Regions from separate parts of the Homo sapiens genome. Here all the other regions are linked to region 3. The links come from fine-mapping of genetic effects on gene expression. A gene starts in region 3. Each other region holds a variant in brackets. All regions are shown on one strand. Distances are between the middles of the regions. Region 1 holds the start of ACAP3 (ArfGAP with coiled-coil, ankyrin repeat and PH domains 3). Region 2 holds the start of AGRN (agrin). Region 3 holds the start of SCNN1D (sodium channel epithelial 1 subunit delta).

Region 1 (10,295 bases), 27 kb after region 3:
AGGTCCTCCCGCACCTTGTCAAACTGCTTCTTTGTCTCCTTGAACTTCCGCACATCCCTGGAGGCCAAGTGCCAGGTGGGGTGAGAGATCAGGGAGGGCACCTGCTGGATCCTGGAGTCTCCCACATCGTTGTTTGTGTGTTTTTTGTTTTTTGAGACGGAGTTTCGCTCTTGTCACCCAGGCTGGAGTGCAATGGTGCTGTCTCGGCTCACCGCAATCTCTGCCTCGCGAGTTCAAGTGATTCTCCTGCCTCAGCTTCCCTAGCAGCTGGGATTACAGGCATGCGCCACCAGGCCTAATTTTGTATTTTTAGTAGAGATGGGGTTTCTCCAGGTTGGTCAGGCTGGTCTTGAACTCCCGACCTCAGGTGATTCACCCACCTCGGTCTCCCAACGTGCTGGGATTACAGGCGTGAGCCACTGCGCCTGGCCTGGTTTTGTTTGTTTGAGACAGGGTCTGTCTCTGTTGCCCAGGCTGGAGGCTGGAGTGCAGTGGCACAGTTATGGCTCACTGCAGCCTCTACCTCCCAGGCTCAAGCAATTCTCCCACCTCGGCCTCCCAAGTAGCTGAGGCTACAGGTGCGTGCCACCATATAAGGCTTATTTTTGGTTCTTGGGGGTGTCTTTTTTTTTTTTTTTTTTTTTGATGGAGTCTCTCTCTGTCACCCAGGCTGGAGTGCAGTAGCACAATCATGGCTCACTGCTGCCTCCGCCTCCTGGGCTCAACTGATCCTCCCACCTCATCCTCCTGAATAGCTGGGACCATAGGCACGTGCCACCATGCCCATCTAATTTTTTTTTTTTTTTTTTTTTGTAGAGATGGAGGTCTCATTACGTTGCCCAGGCTGGTCTCAAACTCCTGGCATTCTCTGGCCTTGGCCTCCCAAACGCTGGGATTACAGGTGTGAGCCACCATGCCCAGCCCCACCCCCCTCCACTCCAGGCCCTTTCTTTGCTCCTGGGCATAGCCTCCTTCCTCACCAGCCTATCCCAGGCCTGCCCGCACCCCTGCTGACCCCGATCATCTGCTCCAGGCCTCCCCAGCCCCTCCCCACCTCACTCTCAAGATCTGTCCAGCCCAGACCCCAGCCATGCCCCAGACTCCAGACCCCCAAACCCAACGTGGACTGGACCTCTCTGCTGTGGGGGCTGGACACCCCACCCACACATGCAGGGTGTGGAACCCCCCGCACTCCACCCGGCTGTCTGCCTCTGAGCCTTCTGCCTTGTGGAGCCGCTGCACAGCCTGGAGGCCTGGGCCCAAGGTGCCTCTGCTCTGCCCCAGACCCCCTTCCCCTCCAAGGGAGGGAGCGTGGCCTCAGTGTTCTTCCCCCAGCCCTGGGGGCCACTCACTCTTTGACAAAGCTCTGGAGCTGCTGCCGCACGGACCTCTGGGCCTGGTCAAACAGGATCTGGGGGCAGAGGCGGGCAGAGATCCTTGGGGTCTGTCCCGAAAGAGCCCCAGATGGAAGGCCCCATCCTCACCAGCAGAGGGCACTGCCCCCAGGCCCAGATGCAGGGGCGGGTCCCACCCTGCAGGGCTGGCCTCAAGGGGGTCAGGGGAGCAGCCCCCAGGCCTGAGTTGGCACTCAGAGGCGATGGCTGTCACCCCTGCCCCTCTGTCCCACCTGGCCCTTGATGAGTGCAGAGGCCAAGGCTGCCTCATCACAGCCTGAGCCGGAGCCCCACTGCCTCCTGGCCCTGGGCGGCCACCCTGGGGTGCCCATCCCTGCAGCAGGGAGCACTCAGCCAGAGCCGGGAGCACCCAGGGGCTGGGCCTGGGGAGCTGGAGCCTGGGCTCTGAATCGGAACCCGAAGTAGAGAAGGACCGGGCACAACCAGGAGCAAAGGGACGGCTGAGCCATCCTGCCTTGTCTACTTCGGGACCTCCTCTGTTCAGTCTGCGGCTCAGGTTCCCAGGCTGCAGCCCCACATCTCACGGGTGCCTGTCCTGTGTGTCCATCCACGTCAGTGCCAGGGCCCCCGGGGGCCACCCAGACCCAAATGGCAGCCAGGCCAGCCTGGGACGAGAGCCCTGCCCAGTTGGGGGAACCCTGGATAAACCACCCCTCCCCCAGGGTCTAGTGTGGCCCTTGCCTGGGACACGGCAGAGCCCCCAGGGCTGTCCCCCAACCCCACACTGACTTGAAAATGTGGGATTCCCCCCCCCCCCGACTAGAGGAGCAGAAACGTGCCCCCCCCAACCCGACGCCGGCCTTCAGGTGAGCCAGCGCAGCTCGGTTCCAGGCCAGGCACAGCCCACAGGTGGCAGGGAGGCCGCGCTCACCATGTGGTAGTTCACCACCTCCTGTAGGCTGTCAGCGAACCTCTGCAGACATTCCTGGAGGAGCAGATGGGAACCCGTGCTGAGATGGCAAATCCGGGCCCAGGTCACCCAGCCACGCCCTCTGAGCCCCTGGGCGGTGCAGACACCGGCCTGCTTCTGGCCTGGACGCCCTCAAGGGGCTGCCTCCCTCGGCCTCTCCCCCAACCCCACCTTGAGGTCAGAGGTCAGTCGGCCCCTCACCGAGATGACGGTGTCGCCCTGGCACTGCTGGGACAGGTCGCGGACGCCGCTCACGAAAAGCCTGCTGGTGCTGACGTAGGCCTTACCGGCTTCCACCATGCCACTGCACAGCTTCACCAGCTGTGGGCCAGCGGGGCGTGGTGAGCACAGTGGGCACTGGCGCCTGCACTCGCCACCACACACGGCCACTCAGAGGCAGGAAGAGCTCCCAGGGTAGGTTCCACTCAGGGCGTTGGCACTCAGGACTCAGTGCCCCGGTGCAGCTTCCTCACGCCTGGGCCTGCCTGGGGCTTGGAGGCCCGTCTGGGAGGGGAGGGTGGGGCCGCCACGGCTCGGCTGGGAGGGACCAGGAGCCAGGCAGGGGACCCAGGGCCAGCAGGACCAGCAGAACCAGCCCATGTGGGGCTCATGGATAAGGCTGCCCACTCCCAGCTCCACGGCCTGTTGCCCCCTCCTCTTTCTCAGCCCATGTGGGGCTCATGGACACGGCTCCCCTCTCCACGGCCTGTTGCCCCCTCTTTCTCAGCCCATGTGGGGCTCATGGACACGGCTCCCCCCTCCACGGCCTGTTGCCCCCTCCCCTTTCTCAGCCCCAGCCCCAGCCACACCAAGGCTCAGCCCACACAGCAGCTGTCCCCGTGTCACCAGCCCAGCAGAGGGGACGGGCAGCCACCGTGGGTCGGGGACTCACCACAGCCCAGCCCCTCCCAGATGGGACGAGACTCAGGGCCAGCCACATGTGTGCATGTGACATGTGCACCCTGGAACACACATGCTAAGACACAGGGACCAGGACCTGGAGCACCACACGCATGCTCCACATATGGGGGGTGTAAGTGGCTTAGTAAGGCCTGGAGGGCGAGTCTGGCCATGTGGCCATCCCAAGCTTGGCCGGGCACAGGGCGCTCCAGGCCCGCCCTTCACCTTGTCCAGTTTGGCCTCAATCTCCACCACGTCCGTCTCCACCTCGTCAATGGTCGCCCTAAAGCAAGAACGGGGCTGGCTGGGGTCACCTGCAGCCTCAGCCCCCTCGGGGCTTCACCTCCCCCCGCACCTCCCTGAGGGGCTCCACCATGGGAAGGGGCTTTCAGGAAACAGGCTGGGAGACAGACGCCTGCCTGCTACGGGGGCAGGACTGGGACCAGGTTCAGTGCACTTCCCCCCGCCCCCCCAACCCCAGGCAGGCAGAGGCAGCCGCTGCTGTGCCCTCGGGGAAGAAGGCTGGACCAGCCTCTCCCAGGACAGCCGGCCGCTGGGAGTCCCTCAGGGACAGTGCCCACCAAGGGCTGAGCCAGCCTCACCCGCCTCTCCTCTAGGAGTTCAGAGTCAACCCTGGACCCATCTGGAGCCCCTCAACCCTGCGGCACCTCCCCTCACCCCACTGCACTACTGCAGCCCATCCAGGTCTGGCACCCATGCACTGTGGGACAGGGTGGGGGCAGTAGGGCAGCTGCTCTCGGTCCTGGCAGCACCAGGAGGACCCAGACCAGCTGGGGAGAGACGCCCCCGGCTCCCCCAACCTCACAGCTGCAAGCGGCATGGTCCGCTGGAAAGACGGGTAGGCCATCCTCCTCAGAGCCCACTCCCACCAGGACAGCCTGACAGTGGGGCTGCCTGGGGAGAGAAGAGTTAAGGCATGACATCACCAGAGAAGCCTCGGCGGGAGAATCCCCGGAAGACAGGAGGCAGATGGATCGGGCACGTGACCACCCCCTCCGGGAGCAGGCAACAGGGAAACAGGGCCAGGATCCCGGCAGCCCTCCACACAATCGGCTCACTGGCTGTCCGGGCCATCTGGCCTCCTGGGGATTGGGCACCACAGGGCCCGGGCTGGGGCCAGGACTCCAGGTCTAGGGCAGGGGTCCAGGAGCAGAGGCCATCAGGGCCTACAGTCCCTCGTACCTTGCTACCCTGACCGGTGTCCCAGGCCTCGGGGGAGGGGCCTGTGGTTTACATGGGGCGTGTCCTCAATTAGGAGCTGGAGCTGCAGGCACCAGGCTGCCCCAGCCAGGGACCTTGAAGGGTCCCAGCCACCCCAGAAGGACACTAGGTCCTCTCTGAGCAGCCCTCTCTTGTTCCCAAGGGGCTAAGAGGACTCTGAATCCCGAAGCAGGGGGCGATGGAGGGAATCTCGCTGTGGTGTCCGCTGACCGCCAGTGCCCAGCCTGCAGCCCCTGGACCCTGACCTCTACCTCAGCTGGAGGATCCCAGAACAGAGAAGGGACCATCCTCCCAGGAGAAGGCAGCAGAGAGCGCCACACCCCAGGAGTTGCAGCCACCCCTGAGCAGGGCCGGATGCAGAGACAGCTGCACCCAGAGCTGCCGCCCTCGGGTTTGGGGCGCCCGTGTCCCTGGAGAGCCAGCAAGGGGGGATGGCTGCACCCAGGAGCTCACGGACGTGCTCATGGGGACAGGGTGGGCCCTGGCAGAGGCCCCGAGAGCCGCTCCCACTGCTGGGAGCCCCTCAGCTCTCCCTTCCTCAGTCCTGGGGACCTAGGCCTCCTCTGCTGTGCTCAGCCCAGGATTTCCTCAGCAGCTTGGAGGACGGGGAGGAGGGTGAGGCTGCCCCCCAACCAAAGCCATGACTCAGCGCCTGAAGCCCCACCCAGGGGAGGGGCACACTGAACAGAGGCCAGGCGGTTCCCCTACACGGGCTCCCCTGGCCTCCGGCCCACTGCACCTGGGCTGCCACTAGGCCCTCCCCAGACCAGGAGGGTGCGGGCAGGGTCCCCCTCTCCCGGGCTGGGGCGACCAGGCTCCACGTTACAGACCACATCTTCCCGCCCACCCTGCCTGGCCCCCCAACCTGGCGGTAGGCCAGGAAACTCAAGTTACGCCCTTAGGGCCTGCCCCCAGGACAGCCTCAGGGAGCCCCTCGAACCCCAGTTAAATCACAGCCTAACCCCAAAACCCACTGGGCCAGGCCATTCTCATCTCCCCACTCCAGTCCATGCCCCACAGGGGTGAGGCACTTTCCCAGGGCAGTCACTCTACGGCACCTACTGCAGCCCCACAGCCCCCATAACTGGCTCCTGTAACAGGCTCCCATGAGAGCCGGTTACCAGAGAGAAGGCCCAGAGGTGAGTGGGTTCCAGCACCCCCACACGACTGGAAGAGGGCAGTACAGGGCCGTCTGCGTGGAGGAGGAGGTCCATTAGGCTTCTGACGGAGGGGCCAGGGAGAAGGTGGGTGCTTCAGCCAGGG[T/C]CCAGCCCCCAGCAGGGAGGCCATGCCCACACCTCCCCACAGCCCGGGTCCTCAATGCAGGATCCTAGGGTGCTCAAGTTATTCAACCCCTTTTCCCAGGTCAGCAACAGAAGATGGGAGAGCAGAGGATGGCCCCAGTTCCTCTGCCCAGGGCTGGCGGCCACTCTCCTGGCTGGCCCTGAGCCTCCCACTCCAAGGCTCCTGAGCCTCCTGGTGAGGGCTCCAGGGATACAGAGGCTCCCCGTGCCTCCACACACATGCTGACTTGCCAGCAGATCCCAAGAGACCCAGCGCGCGCGTGCACACCCACACATACACAATCAAGCACACATGTGCAAACATGTTCATGCACAAACATGCCTGCACACACTGGTACCACACATACATGTGTGTTCAAGGAGACACTGCACAGACACGCATCAACATGTGTACCTAGTGATGGAACACGCGTGTACAAGGTGATGTGTCTATTGCTGACATGGCTAACACAGTACGTGAACCCACACAGACAGGTGGTGTGTGCACACGCTTGCGTGCACTCATCGGCAGGCTACATGCAGAAGCAAGCACAGCCCCGTGGCACAGCTCATCCACACGTCCTGTGCAAGGCCTGGTGTCCGGAGGGAGGCACGCAGAGGGGCAAAGTTCACAAGAGCGCACCCCGCACGAGCTCGTGCAGAGGAGGGGGCCTCACGCAGGTGCGCACTTGGGGATGCAGAGAGGTTTCTTTGCCTCCATTGTCGTTTGCCAAATGTCCACCAAGCAAAGCCGATGCACACTTGTGCACACGTCTGTGAACATGTAGTTCACGCAGGTGTACACGCCTGCACGCCACGAATGATGGAAAACATGCAGACTCGGTGTGCACACAACCCCTACCCCCTACCTGACCTTCCCCGCCGCTCTTCTCGGCCGCCACCCCTCCAAGCCCCTGGGTCATTCAAACCACTTCACGTTTCCAAGCACCCTACCCCAGGCCTTAAACGCGGCTCCAGCTGCCTGTTCCCCACGCGCTGCTCTGGACACAGGATCAAGTCAGAGACCAGGGGCCGACGCCCCCACGGACCCAGACGACCCTGGCCAGAGCTGGACTGCAGGGCCCGGGAGGGGCTCAGCCCAGTGGAGGTGCAGACACAGAGCGGGGGCGGACGGTCCCGAGGTGCCCACGGCTGCCCACGCGCACGCCCTCCACCCGGGGCGGCCGCACAGGGCAGGAGCGTCTTTTGTTCCAACCCCCGGGGCATGGCGGGGCGGGGCCGCCGCTTTGTCCGAGGCCGGTCCTCCAGCCCCTCCCCGGCGGCCGCGGCCCGGCCCGGCGCTGACCTCCCCACCCCGCCGCCGGGCACAAAGGCGACAGCGACGCCCCCGGCCTGCGCCCACCCCGGCGGCCCCGGGCGGCGCACCTGAAGCGCGGGGAGTCCTTGACGCACTCCTCGAACTCCACGGTCATGGCTGCGGCGGCCGCGGCGCTCACTGGCACGAGGACCGCGGCGCCGAGCGGCAGCCGCGCCGGCCCGGACCGCTCGTCCCGCCCGCGCCGCCTCGGCGCCCGCCCGCCCCGGAATGAGGCCGCCGCGCCGCGCCCCGCCCCGCCTGTCACCGCCGGGGAGCGTCGCCAAAGTCAGCCGCCCGCGCGCACCGCCCGCTGTCACTGCCGGGGAGCGTCGCCAAGGTCCGCCGCCCGCGCGCGCCGCCCGCTGTCACCGCCGGGGAGCGTCGCCAAACGCCTCTCGCAGCGTCCAGGGACCACCCCGGTCCGGAAGTGAGGCGGGGCCTGCCACGGCCGTCTCCGGGGACAGTCGGTGGAAATGTGGGGCGCGGGGAGGGCGCGGGGAGGGCGCGGGCCCGCCCGCTCCAACCATCCCGGCCGTTGCGCAACTCAGGGCGTTTGCAAAAACCACGTCTGGGAGGACTTGGCCGCAACGCGGCGAACGGGCGCGCTCGGGGAGTGTGGGCGGCGGCGAATGAATGAGCGAGTGAACGAATGCACGCCCGCGAGAGCGCGGGGTGACCGCGTGGTTGGTGCGCGCCTCCCGGGGCGCCGCGATAGAGGTAGAGCGCCTGCGCTCGGCGGCGGGCCGGCACTTTGCAGCCGCTCCCTAAGCCCGGCCCCGCCTCCGCTCCCCGACTCTGGCCGCCGTGGCGCGGTGCCACCGCGCAGGCGCAAGAGCGGCCGGGGCCGGGGGGGAGGGGGGGGGGGCGTGACCAGGCCGCGTCCGCGCGCGCGCAGGATTCCTGCGCTGGAGGCCGCCTCTGACGCCACCGGCTGGGCTCCGCCATGAGTTCGGCGCCGGCCTCAGGCTCCGTGCGCGCGCGCTATCTTGTGTACTTCCAGTACGTGGGCACCGACTTTAAGTAGGTTTCCCAGGCGCAGCGGCGGGCGCCACGTGGGCCCGGGCGGAGGCGGGAAGGAGGGCGCGGGCGGGCAGGCGGATGTCTCTGGACGCGGGTTCCAAACGTTCGGGGAAGGAAGCGGCCCTGGCCTCAGACGGCGGCGGAGACCCCAGGGCAGGGCGCCCCCGGTAACCTCCGCCCGCTTCTGCCCGCAGCGGGGTCGCGGCCGTCAGGGGCACTCAGCGCGCCGTCGGGGTCCAGAACTACCTGGAGGTGCGCTCAGCCGGTCACGGGACGCCCGGTGAGGGGTAAGGGGGAGGCTCCCGCCCGCGCGTCCCCGGGGTCCGGCCTCGCTCACCCGCCCGCCCCGCGGCTCGGTCCTGCAGGAGGCCGCCGAGCGGCTGAATTCCGTGGAGCCGGTCAGGTTCACCATCTCCAGCCGCACGGACGCCGGGGTCCACGCCCTGAGCAACGCGGCGCACCTGGACGTCCAGCGCCGCTCAGGCCGGCCGCCCTTCCCGCCCGAGGTCCTGGCCGAGGCCCTCAACACACACCTGCGGCACCCGGCCATCAGGTGAGCCCGCGACCTAAGCAGCCCTGGGGCTGTGCCTTCCCGACTCCATCTGTCGCGGGCGGAGGCTGGAGATCTGGACAGACTTCCTTGTCTGGTCGGAGCTCGAGGGGGAAGGAGAGCCAATGTGACACCGCGGGCGGGCGGGGTCGTTCCTCCGGTGAGCTTTACCTGCCGCCATAGGGTCCTGCGGGCCTTCCGAGTGCCCAGCGACTTCCACGCTCGTCACGCAGCCACGTCCCGGACCTACCTGTACCGCCTGGCCACTGGCTGTCACCGGCGTGATGAGCTGCCGGTGTTTGAACGCAACCTATGCTGGACTCTCCCGGCAGAGTGAGTGTGGCCCTGACAGCGGGGAGGGGGCGGGCAGGCCGGCCCCACCCTCCTGACGGTCACCCTGGTCCCTGAAGCTGCCTGGATATGGTCGCCATGCAGGAAGCCGCCCAGCACCTCCTCGGCACACACGACTTCAGCGCCTTCCAGTCCGCTGGCAGCCCGGTGCCGAGCCCCGTGCGAACGCTGCGCCGGGTCTCCGTTTCCCCAGGCCAAGCCAGCCCCTTGGTCACCCCCGAGGAGAGCAGGTGAGGAAGGGCCCCTGGGCTGTGGCCCTGCCCTCAAGTCACGTGCTGATTTTAGCTCCAGCACCTCCCCCAGTTTTAAGGCAAGGTGAGGCGGGAGGCAGGCAGCCGGGAGTCCTCAGGACCTGGACAGCTGGAGGGGATTCGCCCGGACGCCCCCCAGCCTCCAGCTGTGCCCTCCCCCCAGGCTGGGGAGCGGAGAACAGGGAAGGCTGCTTGTCTCTGAAAAACCCCTGCCATGCCTGATGGAAGAATGTTGGCAGCTACTGGAAAGGTCTCACTGGTGCCAGTGGTTCTGGTGGGGTGGTTTCTGCTGCCCCCAGCACTGTCCCGAGGGCCACCCACCAGGTGGCAGCTTCTGACCAGAACCTCCCCTATTGGGGTGAGCCCTGAAGGGGGGAAGAACTTCTGCCAGCCCCAGACTTCTGTGGCAGAGCAGCAGGTACAGGACTGGGGGTCTCTGGCACCCGCACCAGCCACGTTCCCAGACCCTGCACCAGGACCCTAGGTGAGGGCCCAGGGCAAGCCCCTCTGGGATGGCCAGGCTACCTGCCCAGCCTCCAGGGTCCTGCTGCCTCCTTGCCCAAGCATTGTTTCTCTGGTTTTAAGCCCCTCCAATGGGCCTCACTGGGGGCAGGAGATCAGCCAGGGCCCCTGGTGGCCAAGCTAGTGGGAACCAGGCTCGTCTTTAGGCCCACCCTGTCACTCTCCCGTCCAAGGCCACATAGTAGGCTGAGGATGGCAAACACTGCCCCACAGACACCTACAGGTACGTATTTTTCCAGGAAGCTGCGGTTCTGGAACCTGGAGTTTGAGAGCCAGTCTTTCCTGTATAGACAGGTAGGCTCTGTTCTGGGGCCGTCCCCAGGGGGTGGGGCTGAGGGTGGGCAGGCCCCTGTGCAGTCTTGGCTCTGGGTCGTGGGCGGCTCTGGGTCACAGGTACGGAGGATGACGGCTGTGCTGGTGGGTCACGGGCGGCTCTGGGTCACAGGTACGGAGGATGACGGCTGTGCTGGTGGGTCACGGGCGGCTCTGGGTCACAGGTGGCTCTGGGTCACAGGTACGGAGGATGACGGCTGTGC
Region 2 (10,295 bases), 260 kb before region 3:
GTGTCCAGAATTGGTGGGTTCTTGGTCTCACTGACTTCAAGAATGAAGCCACGGACCCTCGCGGTGAGTGTTACAGCTCTTAAGTCGGCGCGTCTTCAGTTCGTTCCTTCTGATGTTCGGATATGTTCGGAGTTTCTTCCTTCTGGTGGGTTCGTGGTCTCGCTGGCTCAGGAGTGAAGCTGCAGACCTTGGCGGCGAGTGTTACAGCTCTTAAGGCAGCGCGTCTGGATTTTTTGTTCCTCCCGGTGGGCTCGTGGTCTCGCTGGTTTCAGGAGTGAAGCTGCAGACCTTGGCGGTGAGTGTTACAGCTCATAAAAGCAGTGTGAACCCAAAAAGTGAGCAGTAGCAAGATTTATTGCAAAGAGCGAAAGAACAAAGCCTCCACTGTGTGGAAGGGGACCTGACCGGGTTGCCACTGCTAGCACCGGCAGCCTGCTTTTATTCTCTTATCTGGCCCCACCCACATCCTGCTGATGGGTAGAGCCTAGTGGTCTGTTTTGACAGGGCGCTGATTGGTGCATTTACAATCCCTGAGCTAGACACAAAGGTTCTCCACGTCCCCACCAGATTAGTTAGATACAGAGTATCCACACAAAGGTTCTCCAAGGCCCCACCAGAGTAGCTAGATACAGAGTCCACTGGCACATTCACAAACCCTGAGCTAGACACAGGGCGCTGATTGGTGTATTTACAAACCTTGAGCTAGATACAGAGTGCCGATTGGTGTATTTACAATCCCTGAGCTAGACATAAATGTTCTCCAAGGTCTCACCAGAGTAGCTAGATACAGAGTGTCCACTGGCGCATTCACAAACCCTGAGCTAGACACAGGGTGCTGATTGGTGTATTTACAAACCTTGAGCTAGATACAGAGTGCCGATTGGTGTATTTACAATCCCTGAGCTAGACATAAAGGTTCTCCAAGGCCCCACCAGAGTAGCTAGATACAGAGTGTCTGTCTATTGGTGCATTCACAGACTCTGAGCTAGACACAGGGTGCTGATTGGTGTATTTACAATCCCTGAGCTAGACATAAAGGTTCTCCACGTCTCCACCACTCAGGAGCCCAGCTGGCTTCACCCAGTGGATCCCGCACTGGGGCTGCAAGTGGAGCTGCCTGCCAGTCCTGCGCTGTGCACCCGCACTCCTCAGCCCTTGGGTGGTCATGGGACTAGGCACGGTGGAGCAGGGGGCAGCGCTCATCGGGGAGGCTTGGGCCGCACAGGAGCCCACGGAGGGGGTGGGAGGCTCAGGCATGGTGGGCTGCAGGTCCCCAGCTCTGCCCCGCCGGAAGGCAGCTAAGGCCTGGCGAGTAATCGAGTGCAGCGCCAGTGGGCTGGCACTGCTGGGGGACCCACTACACCCTCCGCAGCCGCTGGCCCGGGTGCTAAGCCCCTCATTGCTCCGGGCCGGCAGGGCCGGCCGGCTGCTCCAAGTGCGGGGCCCACCAAGCCCACGCCCACTCGGAACTCCAGCTGGCCCGCAAGAGCCGCGCGCAGCCCCGGTTCCCGCTCATGCCTCTCCCTCCACACCTCCCTGCAAGCTGAGGGAGCCGGCTCCCGCCTTGGCCAGCCCAGAAAGGGGCTCCCACAGTGCAGCGGTGGGCTGAAGGGCTCCTCAAGTGCCACCAAAGTGGGAGCCCAGGCAGAGGAGGCGTGAAGACCGAGAGAGGGCTGTGAGGACTGCCAGCACGCTGTCACCTCTCAGCACCATCTCAGCTCACTGCAACCTCCGCCTCCTGGGTTCAAGCGATTCTCCTGCCTCAGCCTCCCAAGTAGCTAGGACTACAGGCGCCTGCCACCACACCGGCCAATTTTTGTATTTTTAGTAGAGACGGGGTTTCACCATGTTGGCCAGGCTGGTCTCGAACTCCTGACCTCCCGTGATCCACCTGCCTCAGCCTCCCAAAGTGCTGGGATTACAGGCGTGAGCCACTGCGCCCGGCCCATCCAGCTAATTTTTAATTTTTTTGAGAGATGGGGTCTTGCTATTTTGCCCAGGCTAGTCTCGAACACCCGGTGTCAAGAGATCTTGCTGCCTCCGCCTCCCAGAGTGCTGGGATGACAGGCGTGAGTCACCACGCCCAGCCTAGACACAGTTCTGAAGGGACAAAGGGGGCCTCCGCTCCCTCCTTTCAATCTTCAGCTAGGCCAGGCTCCCACTTGGGTCCTCCAGCCCTCAGTTTCCCCCTGCACCCAGCCAGGCCAAGCTGCAGAGGCGCCCGGCCCAGAGCTGGGAAGGGGCGTGGCGGGACCCGCGCTTGCAGCCGCGGGACGGAAGGGGGCGCGAACCTCCCCGCGGCGGGGCCTGGGGGGGCGGGGCCGGGAGGGGCGGGGCCGCGCCCCGTGCTGGCCAATCAGCGCCCGCCCCGGCACCGGGACCCGCCTCCGCGCCGCAGCTCCCGGGGGGTCCGGCCCGGCCGAGCCTCGGTGTCCGGCCCCGCGGGGGAGGGGCGCGGCCTGCGGAGCGGGATCGGGGCCGGGTCTGGGGCCCCTCCCGGCGGCCTTCGAGCCCTGCCGCCCGGCTCCGCGCCGCCCGGAGCCCCTCGGCAGTCCCGTCACGTCTCCTCCAGATTAGGCATTAACTCGGGTGCAGCCGCACTTCCGGGGGGCCGCGGCGGGGGAGGGGCGCCTGCGGGATCCAGACCCGCCCCCCACTCTCCTCTCCCCGCCCCCTCCCGGGCCGCCCCTTTCCCGCCCCACGGCCGCGCCGGGCGCTGCGTCCCGGGGCTTTGTTCGCGGCGGCGCGGGTCGCCGGCCTCCGGGCGGGCCGGGGGAGGGAGGAGGGAGGGGGCGGGAGGGGGAAGGAAGGAGGAGGGGGAGGAGGAGGGCGCGGGGAGGGGGTAGGGGGGCGGGGAGGAGAGAGGGGGAGGGGCGCCGCCCTGGCCCCGCCCCCCCCCGCCCGCCCGCCCGCGCTCCGCCGCCTCCGGAGCTGCGTCCCGTCCTGTCCAGTCCCGTCCCCGGCGCGGCCCGCGCGCTCCTCCGCCGCCTCTCGCCTGCGCCATGGCCGGCCGGTCCCACCCGGGCCCGCTGCGGCCGCTGCTGCCGCTCCTTGTGGTGGCCGCGTGCGTCCTGCCCGGAGCCGGCGGGACATGCCCGGAGCGCGCGCTGGAGCGGCGCGAGGAGGAGGCGAACGTGGTGCTCACCGGGACGGTGGAGGAGATCCTCAACGTGGACCCGGTGCAGCACACGTACTCCTGCAAGGTGCGCCCACCCGGACCCCGGCCTCCCCTCGCGACGCCTGCCGCCCCGCCGGGACCCCCGCCCCAGGCCGTGGGAACCAGCCCCGGTCGCTCCGCAGCCCCCGCTCCGGCTCCCTTGGCGACCGCCAAGCCCCGGGAGGGGGGGTCGCCGGGTCCCGGGAAACTCGCGGGCGCCGGGGAAAGTTGCTGCGCCGCCGCCGTCCTCCGCCCGCCGCCGCCTCCCTCCTCGCGGAGACAAGTGCACCTCGCCCACGGACTGCGGCTGCCGCGCGCCCTCCCTACCGGCCGAGAAGGAGAGGGGCCTGGGGAGGGGGGGCCTTTGCCCGGGCGGGGAGCGGGGGCTGGGCCTGGGATCCGCTTGTTCCCCTCCCCAGAGGCCTTTCCCGGGGCGAGAGGGGTTGGTCAGGAGAGAAAAAGGGGCGCACAGCCTGAGCTCCCAACCCCGGGAGCCAGGTGGGGGGTGCCGCAGTGGTGCGGGGGGGGGGCGTGCAGGAGCAGAGAGGTGGGCGGGGCCGTCACCGGGCCTCGTGTGCTTGGGGGCAGGGCCGGTGCCCCATCGCGCTCCTGCGGGAACCGGGGCTCCCCACCCCGGGGAGGGGAAGTTTCCCTGGTTTCTCCTTCAGGTGCTTCTGGGAGCCCCCGGGGTAGGTACGCTGGGACCCCCACCATCTTCTCCTAGTAGGGGCTCGGGGGACCCAGAGCCGGCGCCCGTGTACCCCCAAAACCATCTCCTGGGACCAGAAATCCACTCATTTCCCTCCACGGAGGTGGAGAAGGTGGCAGCTTCTTTCAGACTGGCCGGTGCGGGCTACAGCTGGGCTCCCCCGCCGGCCCAGTCTCCTCCACAGCGGCCAGGGCACTTTGCCAGGCCCCTGCAGGATTTTCCCGACTTCCTCCCCGCTGCTCCTGGGTGTGGCTGGGGTGGGGGAAGGCGATGAAAGCCACCAGGCCCTCCCCCTGCCTGGGTCATCTGCCTCCTGGAGCCTACTGTTGGGGGGCGTGGAAGAGGCTCTGCCTGCGCAACTGGAGGGGGTCCCTGCGGATGCCGCAGTCCTGAGGCTCCCAGCAGGGGCTGCGCAGTGGACAGGCCAACCATTGTCTCTCCCCCCATCCGGCAGCCCCAGCCCCCCAGATCTGAGGAAGGGGCTGCTTCTCCCGGCTTTGTTCTCAGGGGAGTGCGTGAGTGCGTGGGTCCCTGTCCCCGTGAGGGCCGCCAGGTCGGCTGTAGCCTTTACCACAGGCCACCGTCAGAGCAGCTGCCCTCAGGGCCCCAGGAGCTGAGAAGGTGGAGGGTGGGGCACCCTGCACTGCCCAAACTTGATTTCGTGGTTCACAGGCTGCCCTGAGTGCACAGACTGTAGAAGCCCGAGGAAGGGGCGTCTCAGCCCAGCCACAGGGCCAAGCTGGCCCCTTACCCCAACGCCCCATCCCCCTCCTCCACTGCCCAAGCTTGCTGGGAGGTGGGCCCTGAGCACTGGGCAGGTGGGGAGAAGTGTGGAAGGCAGGCACCCCAAGCCAGGTGGGCCCCCTTCCCAAATTCGGCCTTAGCTGATAGGGACGTTATTGGAGCTGGGGTGGCTGAAGTTGGTTAGACCTGGGGGAGGGGATGTGTTCACAGGTGACGCATCTCTGAGCGTTCCCGCATGGGCTGTGGTGGCCAGTGTGGGCTTCCCCCAGCTTCCGCCCAGCGGGCTGACTCAGAGGTCTCCCCACATCTCTGCCCAGGGCTTGAGTCTACTGTGGACATTTGCCCTAAACACCTAAAGCCCCCAGTCTAGCCCCTTCCCCAGGAGAGGACTAATGACACCTACCGCCATGTCCACCCCAGGTTCGGGTCTGGCGGTACTTGAAGGGCAAAGACCTGGTGGCCCGGGAGAGCCTGCTGGA[C/T]GGCGGCAACAAGGTGGTGATCAGCGGCTTTGGAGACCCCCTCATCTGTGACAACCAGGTGTCCACTGGGGACACCAGGATCTTCTTTGTGAACCCTGCACCCCCATACCTGTGGCCAGCCCACAAGAACGAGCTGATGCTCAACTCCAGCCTCATGCGGATCACCCTGCGGAACCTGGAGGAGGTGGAGTTCTGTGTGGAAGGTGCGTGGTGGGGGGCTCGTGTGGGGGCCTGTGGGGGTCAGGGCAGTGGCCAAGGGGGACAGGTTGCAGGGGTCGCTGTGCGGGGTCCTTTCGTGCTGTGCCGGAGGCTGCAGCACACGGTGTCTTGTGGTCCAACCTCATTCTCTGCTTCTCCGTCCCTGGCTCCCCAGCTGCATCTCCAAGCCCTCACATTAGACATCTTTGGCCCTGGGGCCCAAGGCAAGTCCCAGCCCTGCAAACAGATGGCCTCCTGCCTCCTCCCCTCCTCCCAGCTCTCCATACTTCCTTCTGGAGGCCCCTTCTAGGGAGAAGCTGGACAGGTGAATGTCCCCAGCTGTTCAAGCCCCTGTGTTAGCCCAGACCTCCGTCTAGACGGGCCCGCGTGTCGAGCACTCCTCGCCGTGGAGATCGGGCGGGAGGGCGAGGCTGTGCGGCGAGGGCTTCTGCGGATGTGGAGGGTGTGGCATTTGCCATCGTGAGGTCTTGCTTGCTGTTCCCATGGCTCTGCCGAAGGGCCGAGGAGTGGCCCTCCCTGACCCCAGCCTGGTGGGGGCAGAAATCCCATGGCAGCCCCCGCAGGACAAGTCCCAGTTGGGGACTGAGATCGTTGGCTGGGGAATGTGGCAGGGAAAATATAGGAGGTCCCTGTCGCCCCCACATCCTGTCTGCTCCCTCATGGCTGCCTGGGAAGGGATGTGTCGGTGGGGGGGTCTGGAGAGTGCTTCCTCCTCAAGGCAACGGTAAGGGTCCTGACTTCCCGTCTCTCCGATCTGCTCCGTTGGCCGGCAGGAAACTTTGCTGCCCTGACACTAGCCTGGCTCTTGAGGGGTCCTTGTGGGGTCCTGGACTGTCCACTGCTCTTGCCTTCTCTGTGCATGCCTGGGGGCTATGCAGGGGGAGGGGCAGCACCCAAAATAAGGAACGCTGCGGCCTTTTCCCCAGCCTGTGGTCAGTGGTCCCCAAGCTGCCTTCAGGGTCCAGGGCCTCAGTGCAGCACAGAGGAGGGTCCCCTGGGTCCCCCACTGGGAGGACATGATAACCTTGGTCCTCTTCTGGGCACTCATGGTCTGGGGAAAAGATGGGGGCATCGTGGACTCAGGATAGGCTGTCAGGAGCTGAGGAGGGGCTGGAGAAGGGGGTTAGGGCGAGGAGAGGTTCCTGTCCCTGCAAGATCAGGAGAGGGGGTCACTAACCCCACAGCCAGGTGGGTCCAGCCCGAGAGTCCGTGACTTAGTAGCTGAGGACTTGCTCTAGGGTCAGAGGGCACATGGCAGGAGAGTCACCCCGGCTGAACGAGGCTCTGCATCTTACCGAAGCCGCTCTACGGGTGCCAGGCACTGGCTCTGGAGCGAGTGCCCAGGCGGAGCAGAGCGCTGGGAGGAGGGTCCGTGGGGAGCCCCTGCCAGGTGGGTGTGGCTTAGCCCAGCTGTGGGCAGTCGCACTCAGGGACGAGCTCCAGGTGGGGAGCCTGGGACCCACAGCCAGTATGCAGCTTGGGGAGCACCCGGGAGGGGCTGTGGCCACCGGACCCCCTGGGGTGGGGCTGGCCAGGGGAGGGTTAGCCAGGGAGGACTGTCATGGGAGGGGCCTTGCAGGTGAGCCAGGGGCCAAGGGGAGCCTCAGGAGGGAAACAGCATGAGGAGTGGGGGAGCCCAGGAGCTTCCGGTGGGACATGTGGAGCTCTGCTGTGGAAGTAGACCAGGGATATCTCGGGTGGCTGGGGTCCCTGGCTGCCGGGACAGGGTAAATGCCTCCCAGAAGCCTGGGGTGAGCCCTGAGGGACAAGGTCTCTGGAGCCAGTCTGGCTGGAGAAGGGACAATTCTGTGTGCCCACCCCTCCCCTCACACTGGGTGGTGTGGGAGGTGGGTCCATCTCCTGCTCTGTAGGAGATAAGGACATTGAACCCCACCCTGGGCCCTCTGGTAGCCAAGGCCTCACCCTAGTGAGGGGGATGGATGGAGGGAGCTTGAGCCTAGCTGACCTCTCCCCATCTGACTCCGACCCCACCTCCCAGGGCACAGGATGGCGTCTGGGCAGCCCCTAGTCTTCAGAAGCTACCCCTGAGACCACAGGGTCCCACCTTGTATGGGAACCCCATCCTGGAGACAAAGGCCCCTCCGAGCTCCCCAGGTCGGGGAGGGCCACGCCCCTCACCACCCCTGCCCGGACACCGCCTGAGGTGCACCTGCTGCTGGGCCACACCTGGACTCAGCTCTACTGAGGACTTCCTTTCCTCAGTTTCTCACCTGGCCCTGCCAGATCTTCCTGGCCCTGCCCAGCCAAGGCCCCTCCCCCAGTCAACAACCCTCAGAAAGGCTCCTCCCCCCTTCTCTGCCTAGGGAGCCACATTCCTGGCATAACTAAGACAGGTATGTGTCCCTCCCTCTGCGCCACCTTTGGGCGGGGGAGGCCCGCTGCTCCCTCCGGAAGGAGACCCCCGCCCCTGCTTTGTCAGGGAAGTGGCCTGGCCTCCGCAGTGCCAGCTGCCCAGGGCTGGCGGCTGAGCGGGCGACTCCTCCGGCCCTCGCCACCCTGTCCTGTCTGGGCACTGCCCATGCCCTCCCAGCCCACCTCACAAAGGCTGGTCCTAGAGCCTCCCTGAAGCCCCCAGGAGGGACTCCTGGCTGAGGGCCGGCCAGGCCGCCCGGGGCCCATCCCTCCCTGCTAGGAGCCAGGAGCAGAGAAAGGGAGTGTTGTCTGCCCCTGCCGGGGCCTGGCACAGGGACAGGGCAGGGGGCCAGGGTCAGAGTGAGTCTGGCGCCTTCCCAGCCCGGCCCTGCCCAGCTCTGAAGCCCGGGGTCCCGGCGGCCTAGTCCCGGGCCCGCCTGTATTCCGGCGTGTGCACCCTCCCTTCCTCCCTGCCTGGCCAGCTGCCTAGGCCTCAGGACGGCAGTCCTAGGGGAAGCCCAGAGTCCCACGGCACCGGGGACAGCATCGGTGCTGGGGTTGAGGGGCCCGACAGCCCCAGACCAGGCTCCCCTCAGTGTGGGGCAGTCTAGGAGTTGGGGGAGGTTTCTGGGATGCAGGAGGACCTCCCATAGGGCTGGGGCCAGCCCCCTCTCCTGCCCAGGGCTCAGCTCCTGCCCCCAACTCCTCCGCATTCCTGCCACCCTCTCCTGCCCCCTCCTGACTCCAGGTTCTCATCCTGCCCCCTGGTTCCCCCACCCCCACCCCATGAGCCCCTCTCTGGCCCTCCCCCAGGCAGGTCTGGGCTCGAGGCTGCTGCCCCAATCTCCCTCCTGCAGCTGGGAGGGGGTCTGCCGGGTGGGAGGGCGGAGGGCCTACCTCTGTCCCTCCCCACTCACCTCTGTGTCTCCCCACCCAGGGGCTCCTGGTAGGAAGTTGGGGCCCCACCTCTGTTTCTCCTGGAGCTGGGAGGGGGGTCTGCCGGGTGAAGGGCCCACCTCTGTCCATCCCAACCCCGGGGCTCCTGGTGGGAAGTCGGGGCTCGGTGCTTCCCGCCTGCGTGAATGGACTTGTCCCGTCTTTGACTTCTCCTGGGCTTGCCCCTGCCTTGGCCTGGGGGGGGGCTTTGCTGGCTGAAACCAAAGGGAGTGAGGTGGTGGGAGGGGTAGGGGAATCGGGTTGGTCAGTTCTGTGGAGATGACCTCTTTGAGAGGGCCGGGCTGAGCTGGTGGAAGGAACTCTTGGCTTTTTCCAGACCCCACCCCACTCCCTCACTCCCCACCCAGAGAACAGCCCTGGCTCCATTGTTCCTGCAGACTAGAGAGGGAAGGTTGTTTTGGAACTGGGCTCGCTCCCGCTTGTCCACACTGGCCGCTCTGGTGGGGCCTCTGTGGGTGGTGGTGGGGATGGCACCTGCTGCAGCCTCCAGGCCAAGGTAGGGGAGAAGGAGGTTAGGGTGAGGACAGGTTCCTGTCCCTGCAAGATCAGGAGAGGGAATCATTAGCCCCACAGCCTGCAGAAGGCGGGATGGGGCTGCTCCAGGGAAGGGGGTGCCCGTGCCTCGGGGCCACAGGTCCGGCCAGAGGTCATTCCAGCCAGGCCCATGCAGCTTCCTTCCTGAAGGGCTGACTCTGCCCCCATCACTGCAGGAGGGTGGAAAACAACTGCAGAAGCAGACGCCCCACGCCCAGGGCTTTGCTTCCACCTGTGGGACCCAGGTCCACAGCCCCACCAGCGGCCTGGGTGGGGCAGGAACGGACCCCCTCCCTGCAGTCCTGGTTCTGGCACCCCCTCCCCACTTGGACTGGGCTCCCCAGGGCCCCCGAAGCCCAGCGGGGCTGGGGCTGCAGACGGAAACACCGTGGTGGCCTGCCCACCTCAGGATGGAACCCCGGGGTCCCAGGAGGTGCCTGCCCCTCAGAGATGAGAAAAAGGAAGTGCAGGGCTGAGATATCACCCCATGGACAGTCGCCCGCTGGAGGAGGAGGCTCTGTACCCCTGCACCTCCTGCCTGCTGGGTGAGCTGCTGGGAGCTGCACTGGGGCTCAGAGCAGTCCTGTGCGCCCCTCAGGCTGTGGCAAGATTGTGGCTGGGATCTAGGGAATGAGGCAGGTCTCTAGCGGAGCCTGCAGCACTGAGGGAAGCCCCCCCGAAGGGGCCTCTCCCCCCAGCACAGATCCTGGGAACTTCCTCTGAGGAAGGCCCCCTGCCAGGGGCAGCTCACAGCAGGACCTGGGAAAGGGAGACGGCCCCTCCCAGCCCCCTCCTCCTGCAGTCCCCCCACGGAGCAGAGGCGTGGGAGAAGGGGCGTGCTGTGTCCTACAGGCAGCCGGCTGTTTCCAGCTGTGTGGCCTGCGTGTGTGCATGTGTTTGTGTGTGTGTGTACACGCATGTGTGTGCACGTGCCTGCAGCCTCAGATGTACCAGCCTGTGCACTTCAGAATTCTGCCTGGAGCCTCCACTAGTGGGCCATGGTTCTTACCACCCTATGTCCCTGGGTTCAGCCCGGGCTGGTGCTGCAGGTGTGAGGCTGGTGGTGGGTGACCCTGGCCTGTCCAGGGGGCCTCGGAGCTGGGCTCTTCCTCTGTCCTCGTGC
Region 3 (9,871 bases):
GAGCGGGCCCGAGGACCCGGCGCAGGCCTGCGAGCGCGCTCACCTCTCCCTGTCGCTGCGCGTGGGCCGCCGCCGCGCTCAGGCTCGCCGTAGTCGAGGCCGGAGCAGGGTGCGGAAAAGCGGGGCCCGCGCCCGAAACAGCCGCACCGCCCCGGGATTGGGCCCACCGAACCCGCCGCAGCGCCGCCGCCGCCGCCTCAGCCTCCAAGATGGCCGCTCGCGGGGCGGAACCAGCCTAGCTTCTGCTTCCGGTGCGCGGTCCGGGGCGGTGAGGAGGGAGGGGGAGGGCTGGCCGCTCTAGGCAGACTGGCGGACCGCGCCCACGACTCTCTGTCGCCGTCGACCCCGGGGTGGGGGATGGGGCGGGGGGCGGGGCGGCGCTTGCGCACTGGCGGGCGGCTCCGGGCACCGTTAGTGGGCGCGAGAGCCCCAGACCCCGAAGCCGCGCGCTTCCCTCCCCATGTGCCACGGCCCAGGGCGGCAGGCCCGGCTGAGGGCGACCCCGGTGGAGAAAGAACCCCGACCCTCCCGCCTCCCGGCTCCCGCCTTGTCCTCCGCTCCCACGCCCCACCCGGCCCTTAGGGGAGGCGCGGCGCGGCCCGGGCATGGAGCGTCCCGGGCCCCTGGAGGCTCAGTGGAGGGTTGGGCTCCAGGGAGCTCAGAGCTCTCTCGTTCAGGGACCCGAGAGTGACACGCGTGGCATCTCTTTGCAACCCACGTCCGCGCCGCAGCACCCTCCCCTGCAGGTGCCTGCCCAGCCCCGGGATGCCCCTGACCTCCCCTTGGACAGACTGCAGAAAGCGCGGGGCGCTGCGTCCTCTCCACCTCTCTCTGACCCCAGACACATTGGGAGAGAGCGGTAGGTGGCGGGGCGCTGGGGTGGGACGCTGGGGGCAGGCGCGCAGCCCACCGCCTCCCTGAGAGGCCGCTGAGGACAGCGGGGAGCTGAGGGTGGTCCCCTGGTGGGGGATCAGGAGGTGGACCTCGCCACCTGGCTGCCTGTGGCCCTCTCCTTTGCCCCAACCCTGACTGCCTCTCAGGAACAACCACAGGTCAGCAAGGTGGCTGAATATTGAGGGTCAGTCCCGCTGTGGCTACGGGCAGAGGGCAGGCTGTGTCCATGCTCAGCCCTGACTCTGGCCCTCTGGGACACCTTGGTGGGTCTGAGACGTTGCTGCAGGCCGTGGGGCAGAAGCCAGGAGGAGTGTCCACGCAGCCTCAGCCCGTGGGAATCCAGCCTGCCTCCATTACTGCCGTCACCGGCTCCACCTTCGGAGAACATCTCAGCATCCAGCCTCCTTCCTCTGCCTCCTCTCAGGCCTCTGCCGTTCCCATGCAGGGCAGGCCAAACTGTTTTCACAGCATGGAAAGTTATGTGAGGGAAGCCACACCGGCCGCAGATACAGGCACCAGCACATCCACTCGCATGCACACTCACGGCTGTGGCCCGCGGCAGATGGAGGCCCGCTCTGCCTTGTCTGTCCCTCAGTAGTGTGCGATGACAGCACACCTGTGGGGGCCCTGCAGCTGGGAAGACTGCAGCGAGGCTCAACTCAGAGGCCCCTGCTCAGGAGCATGGCTGAGTCACACCCCAGGGAGAAGGTGCCCCGGACAGGTGTGGCCAGCACGTCTTGCCAAGACCCCACCACCCCACCCACCCGCATCTGTGGCCTTCTGGTAAGCAGGACACAGGCTGCCCAGGCCTCTAGCCATAGAGCCGATGGCCTTGGCCAGTGGGATCGGCACAAGCAGCTAGGTTGGTGGCAGATGGTGGCTGTAACCTTCTCAACCCTGAGATTGCCCTCTGAGGGCAGGAGCAGCCCTTCTGCTGTGGGCCAGCCCTCCGGAGGGACTTCCTCTGGCAGCTTCAGGAATAGGACAACAGGGACCACCCTCAGCATCTTGAGCAGCGGGGGGCACCCTCTGCTTTGGCAACCAAGAAAACATCCCCCAACCCAGTTACCACCTCCTGCCCCCACCTCCTCCAGCCCCCAGGGTTGGACCAGAAAGCCTTGGCTGCCTCTGAACAGCAGGGATTGTCTGGCCAGGGGATGCTTGAGGGACAGAGAACCCAGCCTGGAGGGTGCAAACTGAGGAAGGTCTCAGTCCCTTTAGAAAGTTTGTTTTGCCAAGGTTAAGGACACACCCATGACATCTCGGGAGGTGCCCAAGGTGCATGTGGCACAGCTCGCTTTTATACATTTTAGGGAGACATGATTTATTTACACGGGTTCAATCTGAAAGAGCAGGATAAATTGGGGTGGTGTGGGGAGACCTCTATGTTATAGGCAGATTCAAAATGATCCTGACCGACAGTGGTTGAAAGAGTTATTATCAATAGAAAGGAATGTCTGGGTTGCAGTAAGGGGTTGTGGTTTTCCACGCAGCTGAAGCCTCGGGTTGCCGGCTTCAGAGAGAATAGATTGTTAATGTTTCCTATCAGACTTAAGGCCTGTGTTGATGTTAATGCTAGTCAGCTTTTCCTGAATTTCAAAAGGGAGGAGGCATGACCCACGACCCCTTCCCGCCATGGCCTGAACAAGTTCCCAGGTTAACACTGGAACGCCCTTGGCTGAGAGGAAGGGTCCATTTGGACGGCTGGGGGGGCCTTAGAATTTAATTTTTGGTTTACATTCACCCCCTTCTGGCCAAGATTTGCCAGAGGCAACATCCATGTCCACCAAATCTTTATTGTGTCTCAGCGTTGCTGGGCGAGTGTGGCTGCCCACCCTCAGTCAATCCTGTCCCTCAGTTTGACTCCCTATGACCCAGGGACTTACAGTTAAAAGATTTACAGCCCATTAAATTTTGTAGGCCAGATAGGAATGGACATGGACCAGCATTCATTACCTCTTAAAACAATTTTTTTTTTTAAAGTTGGAGTCTCACTCTGTCGCCCAGGCTGGAGTACAGTGGCATGATCTCGGCTCACTGCAACCTCCGCCTCCCAGGTTCCATTGAGTCTCCTGCCCCAGCCTCCTGAGCAGCTGGAACTACAGGCATGCACCACCATGCCTGGCTAATTTTTATATTTTTGTAGAGACAGGGTTTCACCATGTTGGCCAGGCTGGTCTTGAACTCCTGACCTCAAGTGATCCGCCCTCCTTGGCCTCCCAAAGTGTTGGGATTGCAGGCATGAGCCACCACACCCGATCTATCATGTAACATTTTTATAAATTCCTTTTTTACCAAAGGTATTGCAGCTTACACAGACCGTTCACGACATGTGGACTTTCTAGTTTGTGCTGAACATCCCTTTTTTTAAACAACCAGTCATTTATTTAAGGACAAAAATTTACCATACAAGATTCTTTCTCATATAAAATTATTTTTTTTAACCTTACTTAACAAAAAGACCTCTTTATATCTATAACTTTCCTTGGTCTCTCTTATTTCCTTGTTCTTTTTAACTCATTTTATACATAAACTTTAAATAAGCTTTGAATTAGACAAAATTATTTACCTTATAATAAGAATTTTTGTAGAAAGAACGTTTTCCTATAATTTTTTTTTTTTTAGATGGAGTCTCACTCTGTCGCCCAGGCTGGAGTGCGATGGTGCAATCTCGGCTCACTGCAACCTCCCCCTCCCAGGTCCAAGTGATTCTCCGGCCTCAGCTTCCCAAGTAGCTGGGATTACAGGCATGTGCTACCACACCTGGCTAATTTTTGTATTTTTCAGTAGAGACGGGGTTTTGCCATGTTGGCCAGGCTGGTCTCCAATTCCTGATCTCAGGTGATCTACCTGCCTCGGCCTCCCAAAGTTCTGGGATTACAGGTGTGAGTCCCCATGCCTGGCCTTCAGCTGGGTTTAGAGTTTTACAATGCTTATGCCAAGTTTTGACCCCTTATAAATCAATAAATGCAAACAAAAATGTATGCTGACAGTTTTTAAGACACTCCTTATATTACTTTACCAATACTTTTGGCCGGGCACGGTGGCTCACGCCTGTAATCCCAGCACTTTGGGAGGCCGAGGCAGGTACATCACGAGGTCAGGAGATGGAGACCGTCCTGGCTAACATGGTGAAACCCCGTCTCTACTAAAATATACAAAAAATTAGCCGGGCGTGGTAGCGGGCGCCTGTAGTCCCAGCTACTCGGGAGGCTGAGGCAGGAGAATGGCCTGAACCCAGAAGGCAGAGCTTGCAGTGAGCCCAGATCGCACCACCGCACTCCAGCCTGGGGGACAGAGCGAGACTCCGTCTCAAAAAAAAAAAAATTTTTTACTTAAGTCACATGAAATTTGTTATTATGTACTAAATGTATGCATACTCCTTAAGCCACTTTGATACCTTGTGGCCACAAAACATGTATCAGAATCCACGCACGTACACATAAACACATCTAAACACACATATACACTCATCCAAAAACCCTACAGCTTTTGCTTTACACCTCTAACCATGACATATCAACACAAAGTCACTAGTTAGAAAAACAATAACAGAAAGAAACATCTAGATGCAAACTGTGGATGTCATCTCAGTAGAAAAGTAACAGCTGGTCAGGCACGGTGGCTCACAACTGTAATCCCAGCACTTTGGGAGGCCAAGGTGAGTGGATTGCCTCAGGCCAGGAGTTCAAGACCAGCCTGGCCAACATGGTGAAACCACGTCTCTACTAAATTTACAAAAACTAGCCAGGCGTGGTGGCGCACACCTGTAATCCTGGCTACTTGGAAGGCTGAGGCAGGAGAATCGTTTGAACCCAGGAGGCAGAGTTTGCAGTGCGCCGAGATCGCACCCCTGCACTCTAGCCTGGGCAACACAGTGAGACTCTACCTAAAAAAAACAAAAAGTGTAACAGCAGCTTTAAGGCAGGCAGCAAAGGAAACAGAGAGATAGAGAACTTAGGAACTCTATAGTTCTTTTTTTTTTTTTTTTTTGAAACAGAGTTTTGTTCTTGCAGCCCTGGCTGGGGTGCAATGGCACGATCTCAGCTCACTGCAACCTCCGCCTTCTAGATTCAAGCTATTCTCCTGCCTAAGCCTCCCAAGTAGCTGGGATTACAGGTGCATGCCACCACGCTCGGCTCATTTTTGTATTTTTAGTAGTGATGGGGTTTCACTCTGTCGGTCAGGCTGGTCTCGAACTCCTGACCTCAGGTGATCCGCCCGCCTTGGCCTCCAAAAGTGCTGGGATTACAGGCGTGAGCCACTGCGCCTGGCCAGGAACTCTATGGTTCTGTAGTTGCAGGCTGACCTTTGGGCTCTGAATTTTTCCTGGATGGAATTTGCCCATCAGTTTAAAATGTGCCCCAAAAGACCATAATATGGAACCAGCTGGGGCACTAGGAAACCCAGCATGCCCGCGACATGTTCAGTTTTATACCAACACTTGCAGGTAGAGGCGCCTGAAACCAGCGGGGTGCCTGGAAGGAGGTCGCCCTCTTGTCTTTGCTGAGGCTTACATTATTTATTTCCCACTTTTTTTTTTCTTGAAAGGAACCGAGCTGTGGCCTGGGGTTCCATGGAGCAGGTGGGGCGCGGAGGAACTGAGCTGTGGCCTGGGGTTCCGTGGAGCAGGTTGAGTATGGAGGAACTGGGGTTCCGTGGAGCAGGTGGGGCGCAGAGGAACCGAGCTGTGGAATGGGGTTCCGTGGAGCAGGTTGAGTGTGCCGGTCGTGGACGGGTCGTGGGCGGGACTCCCCAGTGTGTCACCACTGAGGCATCTTCGCCCTCTTACGTGTCTCTGTTTCTCTCTCTAGAAGTCCAACACCTCCGAGAGGACTCAAAACACAGAGTGACCAGCTCCTATGTGCATTTCCTGGACAAACCTTTTTTTTTTTTTTTTTTTTGAGACGGAGTCTCGCTCTGTCGCCCAGGCTGGAGTGCAGTGGCACGATCTCGGCTCACTGCAAGCTCTGCCTCCCGGGTTCACGCCATTCTCCCGCCTCAGCCTCCCAAGTAGCTGGGACTACAGGCTCCCGCCACAATGCCCGGCTAATTTTTTGTGTTTTTAGCAGAGACGAGGTTTCACCGTGTTAGCCAGGATGGTCTCGATCACCTGACCTCGTGATCCACCCGCCTCGGCCTCCCAAAGTGCTGGGATTACAGGCGTGAGCCACTGCACCCAGCAGACAAACCTTTTTAAACTAATTGTGTTGGGGGGTTCCCTGTGGGGCTGCTGCACGTCGTGGGGGATCAGCCCACGAGATACTCCCACTTGGCTCACAGTCACCCAGGGGCGCCTTTCAGCTGGGAGGAGCAAAATGCCTTTCTTTCTGGAGCTGAGAAAACTCAGTCTCTCATTTATCTATGCAAAGAACAATTCAGTTCCTCATGCAAATGCACGCACAAGCCAGTTGGGCTTAATTTTGGGAGAAAAAGCAACAGAGAAGACCCTTAGGAACGCACGTCCGAGCTAGAAACCAAATGGGGTACCCAAAAGGGAGTCGTTCTCCTTGTCTTAAGAAAAAGGTGGCCGGGCGCAGTGGTTCACACCCGTAATCTCAGCACTTTGGGAGGCCGAGGCAGGCGGATCACCAGGTCAAGAGATCAAGACCAGCCTGGCCAATATGGTGAAACCCCATCTCTACTAAAAAAATATACAAAAATTAGGCTGGGCGCAGTGGCTTATGCCTGTAATCCCAGCACTTTGGGAGGCCGAGGTGGGCGGATCACGAGGTCAGGAGATCGAGACCATCCTGGCTAACACGGTGAAACCCCGTCTCTACTAAAAATACAGAAAATTAGCCAGACGTGGTGGCGGGCGCCTGTAGTCCCAGGTACTCAGGAGGCTGAGGCAGGAGAATGGCGTGAACCCGGGGGGCGGAGCCTGCAGTGAGCCGAGATCGCGCCACTGCCCTCCAGCCTGGGCGACAGCGAGACTCCATCTCAATAAATAAAAAAAAAAAAGAGTTGTTATCAGTAGAAGGGAATGTCTGGTTACAGTATGGCGTTGTGCAGATGAAGGTCTTATCGCAGATGAAGCCACCAGGTCACAAGCCTCAGAGAGAATCAACTATAAATGCTTCTCATCAGACTCAAGGCCTGAGGTGATGCTGATGCTGTGCCTGAATTCCAGCAGGGAGGAGGCATGAGGTGCGTCCGACTCCCTTCCCATCACAGCTGAGCTAGTTTTTCAGGTTAACTTTGGAATGCCCATGGCTAAGACCAGGGGTCCATCCAGACAGTTCAGGGCTTATAATTTTATTTTTGGTTTATGAGGGAACCTAGAAGGCAGCCCACACGCACCTTACTCCTCCCAGCAGGGGACACCGGCCAGACCCCAAGCTCCACACTCCCACCCTCAGCACCCACCCAGGCCAGCAGCCGGGGGCACCTTGGTGCCACCTTAGTGCCTGTTCTGCGGAGGCTCCACTGGACAGTGCAGTTGATGCCCGGGGCCGAGGGGGCTCTGCCTGGGAGGCTGTTCACCTGCCTGGGTGCAGGACCCCAGAGGGACCCCAGGCCACCCCTGGCCTGCCCATGCCCACGGGAATCCCGACCTTGGGCTGCCTGTCTATTGCACCAGAACCGTCCCAGGGCTGACTCAGAGTGACCCTGAGTGGGGGACGCTCACCCCAGGGGAGGAAACGGGGCTCTGGGATAGGAGGTCCTGGCTGGGGTCCCACAGATGCCAGGCGCCTGCCATCTCCAGGGCAGTGCTGTCACAGAAGACAACACCGCTCCCTCGTTACCTGTGGCCCGGCCACCTCAGCGGCCCAAGGAGGTGAGCTCACAGCCATGCTCGGTCAATGGGGCCTGGCCGTCTTTCCTGGGAGAGAGCAGAGGCATGGGCCCAAAGGGAGCCAGGGATGCCTGCCCGTCCCTTCTCTCATTCAGGCTCACCTGGTCATGGTGCAGTGACCACAGGACCCCCACATGCCGGGAGCTGGGTTCGCCCCACCCCACCCCCTGCACCGGGCCAGCGAGGGGATGGCCCAGAAGAGGGGGAGGACCATGTGGATTCACCAGTGCTGGACATGTGCTCTGTGGCTACCCCCTCTGCCTACTCTCTGGCCCGATACAGGGGTGTGGGACAGGTGACTGAACCTCAGCCCTTAGAGGCCTTGCCCGGGAGGAGGGGAGGGGGGTGGAGCCGGGAGCTGCGTGATCCAGCCGAGATGTGCTCTGACTGAGGCCCTGCAGGGCATACGGGTCATGGAAGGGGTGCTCTGCCCCCGGCCAGGGCTCCCCCTCCTACAGGAAGCCGGGGGCCTTGCTCCTGCAAGCTGCCCTTTGGCTGGACCGGGCCCCACTGGCCGGACCTGGGCTCTTTCTCTCTCTGCACCCTGCACCAAGGCTGGGCTGTCTGCCAGGCCACTCCCGGGGACACAGGGAGGCACAGGCTGCTTCCAGCCACAATCTCTGGCAAGCACCTAGGACCTTGTCCCCGCCTGCCAAGTAGCCGCCCGGGCCATGTGTGCCCTGTCTCCTCGGCAGGTGCGGCCCACGCACAAAGCTGCCCAGATGTGGTGGGGGAGAAGCCCCAGGCCTGTGCTGTGTCCGGGGGCCCTGCCGCTGACCTGTGGGGTCTCTGTGACATCAGCAAGCCCCCTGCCGCGAGCTTGGAGAGGCACCCCAGCCCCATCTGGCACTCAAGGAAATCAGCTCAGAGAGGTTGAGTAACTCGGGAAGGCCACACAGCCAGTGACGAAGCTGTGATTCACACAGGCCTGGGTGACTCCAGCATGGCTTTCCTCTCCAGGACGTCACCGGTGGCAGCTGCTTCCTTCCAGAGCCGGCAGGCAGGTGACCTCACCCTCCTCAGAGCCATGGCTCTGCTGCTGGACCCTGTGGGGCTGGGCTCCCCCAGCCAAGCCCAGGGACCCAGCACCACTTGGGGCAGGATGTCAGGAACACAGAGCCTACCCTTCCAACCTGGGCCCGGCTCGGGTCTGGTCATTTGGGACAGTGAGGCCACCTGGATATCTAGGGTCCCACAGTAGACAGGGATGGGGTGGTCCTGGGGGACAGGGACACCTGCCTTCCACACAACCGCACTGGGGCTGAAGACGCCAGCCTGGGAGACTGTGATTTGGACCCTGACAGTAGCATGTGGTCTTAGCATGTGTGAGGTCTTAGCGTGTGTGGTCTTAGTGTGTGTGAGGTCGTAGCGTGTGTGAGGTATTAGCATACGTGTGTGGTCTTAGCATGTGTGGGGTCTTAGTGTGTTGTGAATCACTTTCTTTTTTTTTTTTTTGAGACGGAGTCTTGCTCTGTCGCCCAGGCTGGAGTGCAGTGGCACGATCTCGGCTCACTGCAAGCTCCGCCTCCTGGGTTCACACCATTCTCCTGCCTCAGCCTCCCCAGTAGCTGGGACTACAGGTGCCTGCCACCGCGCCCACCTAATTTTTTGTATTTTTAGTAGAGACGGGGTTTCACCGTGTTAGGCAGGATGGTCTCAAACTCCTGACCTTGTGATCCGCCCGCCTCGGCCTCCCAAAGTGCTGAGATTACAGGCGTGAGCCACCGCGCCTGGTGGTCGTGAGTCACTTCCATGTGTGCCAGCATCTTGGTGTGTGTGGTGTGGGTGTGGACTGAAAGTCTTAGTGTGTGGCGCGTCATCTTAGTGTGTGGTGTGGTTGGTGGCAGCTATAGTGTCCAGCAGGGAGGGCGAGCCCCTGTGCCTACTCGGGGGAGCAGGTGCCTTCTCCACACCCAGACCCTTGGTGTTCCCACATTAGCACCTGTCCCAATGGCTGGGCGGCTGGTCCCGAGAGACACTGGATCTGGGAGCTGAGGTCCCCACCCAGTGTCTGTCAGCCAGGGAAGGGAGGGAGTGCTGGGAGCCCACCACGGCCCCGGATCTGAGTTCCAGGAGCTGGCAGAGAAAGATGGGGCTTCTGGGCCGGGCACGGTGGCTCACGCCTGTAATCCTAGCACTTCGGGAGGCTAAGGCGGGCGGATCACCTGAGGTTGGGAG

The links.
Region 1: its variant is fine-mapped to the expression of SCNN1D in cerebellar hemisphere (GTEx, PIP 0.99).
Region 2: its variant is fine-mapped to the expression of SCNN1D in esophagus mucosa (GTEx, PIP above 0.99).

Annotation. Positions count from the first base shown.
Region 1 is chr1:1,300,636-1,310,930 of GRCh38, forward strand. It overlaps ACAP3 (ArfGAP with coiled-coil, ankyrin repeat and PH domains 3), which reads right to left and starts at 7,295. Exons shown (of 24, transcript NM_030649.3): 1 at 7,134-7,295; 2 at 3,451-3,508; 3 at 2,527-2,646; 4 at 2,287-2,340; 5 at 1,353-1,411; 6 at 1-57. The coding sequence starts at 7,180. It overlaps PUSL1 (pseudouridine synthase like 1), which reads left to right and starts at 7,962. Exons shown (of 8, transcript NM_153339.3): 1 at 7,962-8,085; 2 at 8,280-8,337; 3 at 8,451-8,638; 4 at 8,819-8,968; 5 at 9,046-9,216; 6 at 9,999-10,053; 7 at 10,274-10,295. The coding sequence starts at 8,009. SNORD167 (small nucleolar RNA, C/D box 167) reads right to left here and starts at 4,177; the gene lies at 4,094-4,177. RefSeq lists enhancers at 1,136-1,737, 1,738-2,337, 2,338-2,938, 2,939-3,538, 3,539-4,139 and silencers at 5,160-5,329, 6,844-7,063, 7,114-7,283, 7,324-8,003, 8,224-8,293 and 2 more. The variant T/C (reference allele first, on the strand shown) is at 5,731.
Region 2 is chr1:1,017,171-1,027,465 of GRCh38, forward strand. AGRN (agrin) reads left to right here and starts at 2,950. Exons shown (of 36, transcript NM_198576.4): 1 at 2,950-3,203; 2 at 5,031-5,292. The coding sequence starts at 3,003. RefSeq lists a silencer at 2,264-2,713 and enhancers at 4,222-5,421, 6,606-7,582, 7,583-8,558. The variant C/T (reference allele first, on the strand shown) is at 5,090.
Region 3 is chr1:1,273,623-1,283,493 of GRCh38, forward strand. SCNN1D (sodium channel epithelial 1 subunit delta) reads left to right here and starts at 6,814. Exons shown (of 18, transcript NM_001130413.4): 1 at 6,814-7,044; 2 at 7,604-7,675; 3 at 7,789-7,988; 4 at 8,620-8,693. The coding sequence starts at 7,040. LINC01786 (long intergenic non-protein coding RNA 1786) reads left to right here and starts at 380. Exons shown (of 3, transcript NR_185846.1): 1 at 380-859; 2 at 1,181-1,677; 3 at 5,446-6,985. UBE2J2 (ubiquitin conjugating enzyme E2 J2) reads right to left here and starts at 232. Exons shown (of 7, transcript NM_058167.3): 1 at 44-232. RefSeq lists silencers at 77-656, 817-866, 9,538-9,738 and an enhancer at 1,078-1,716.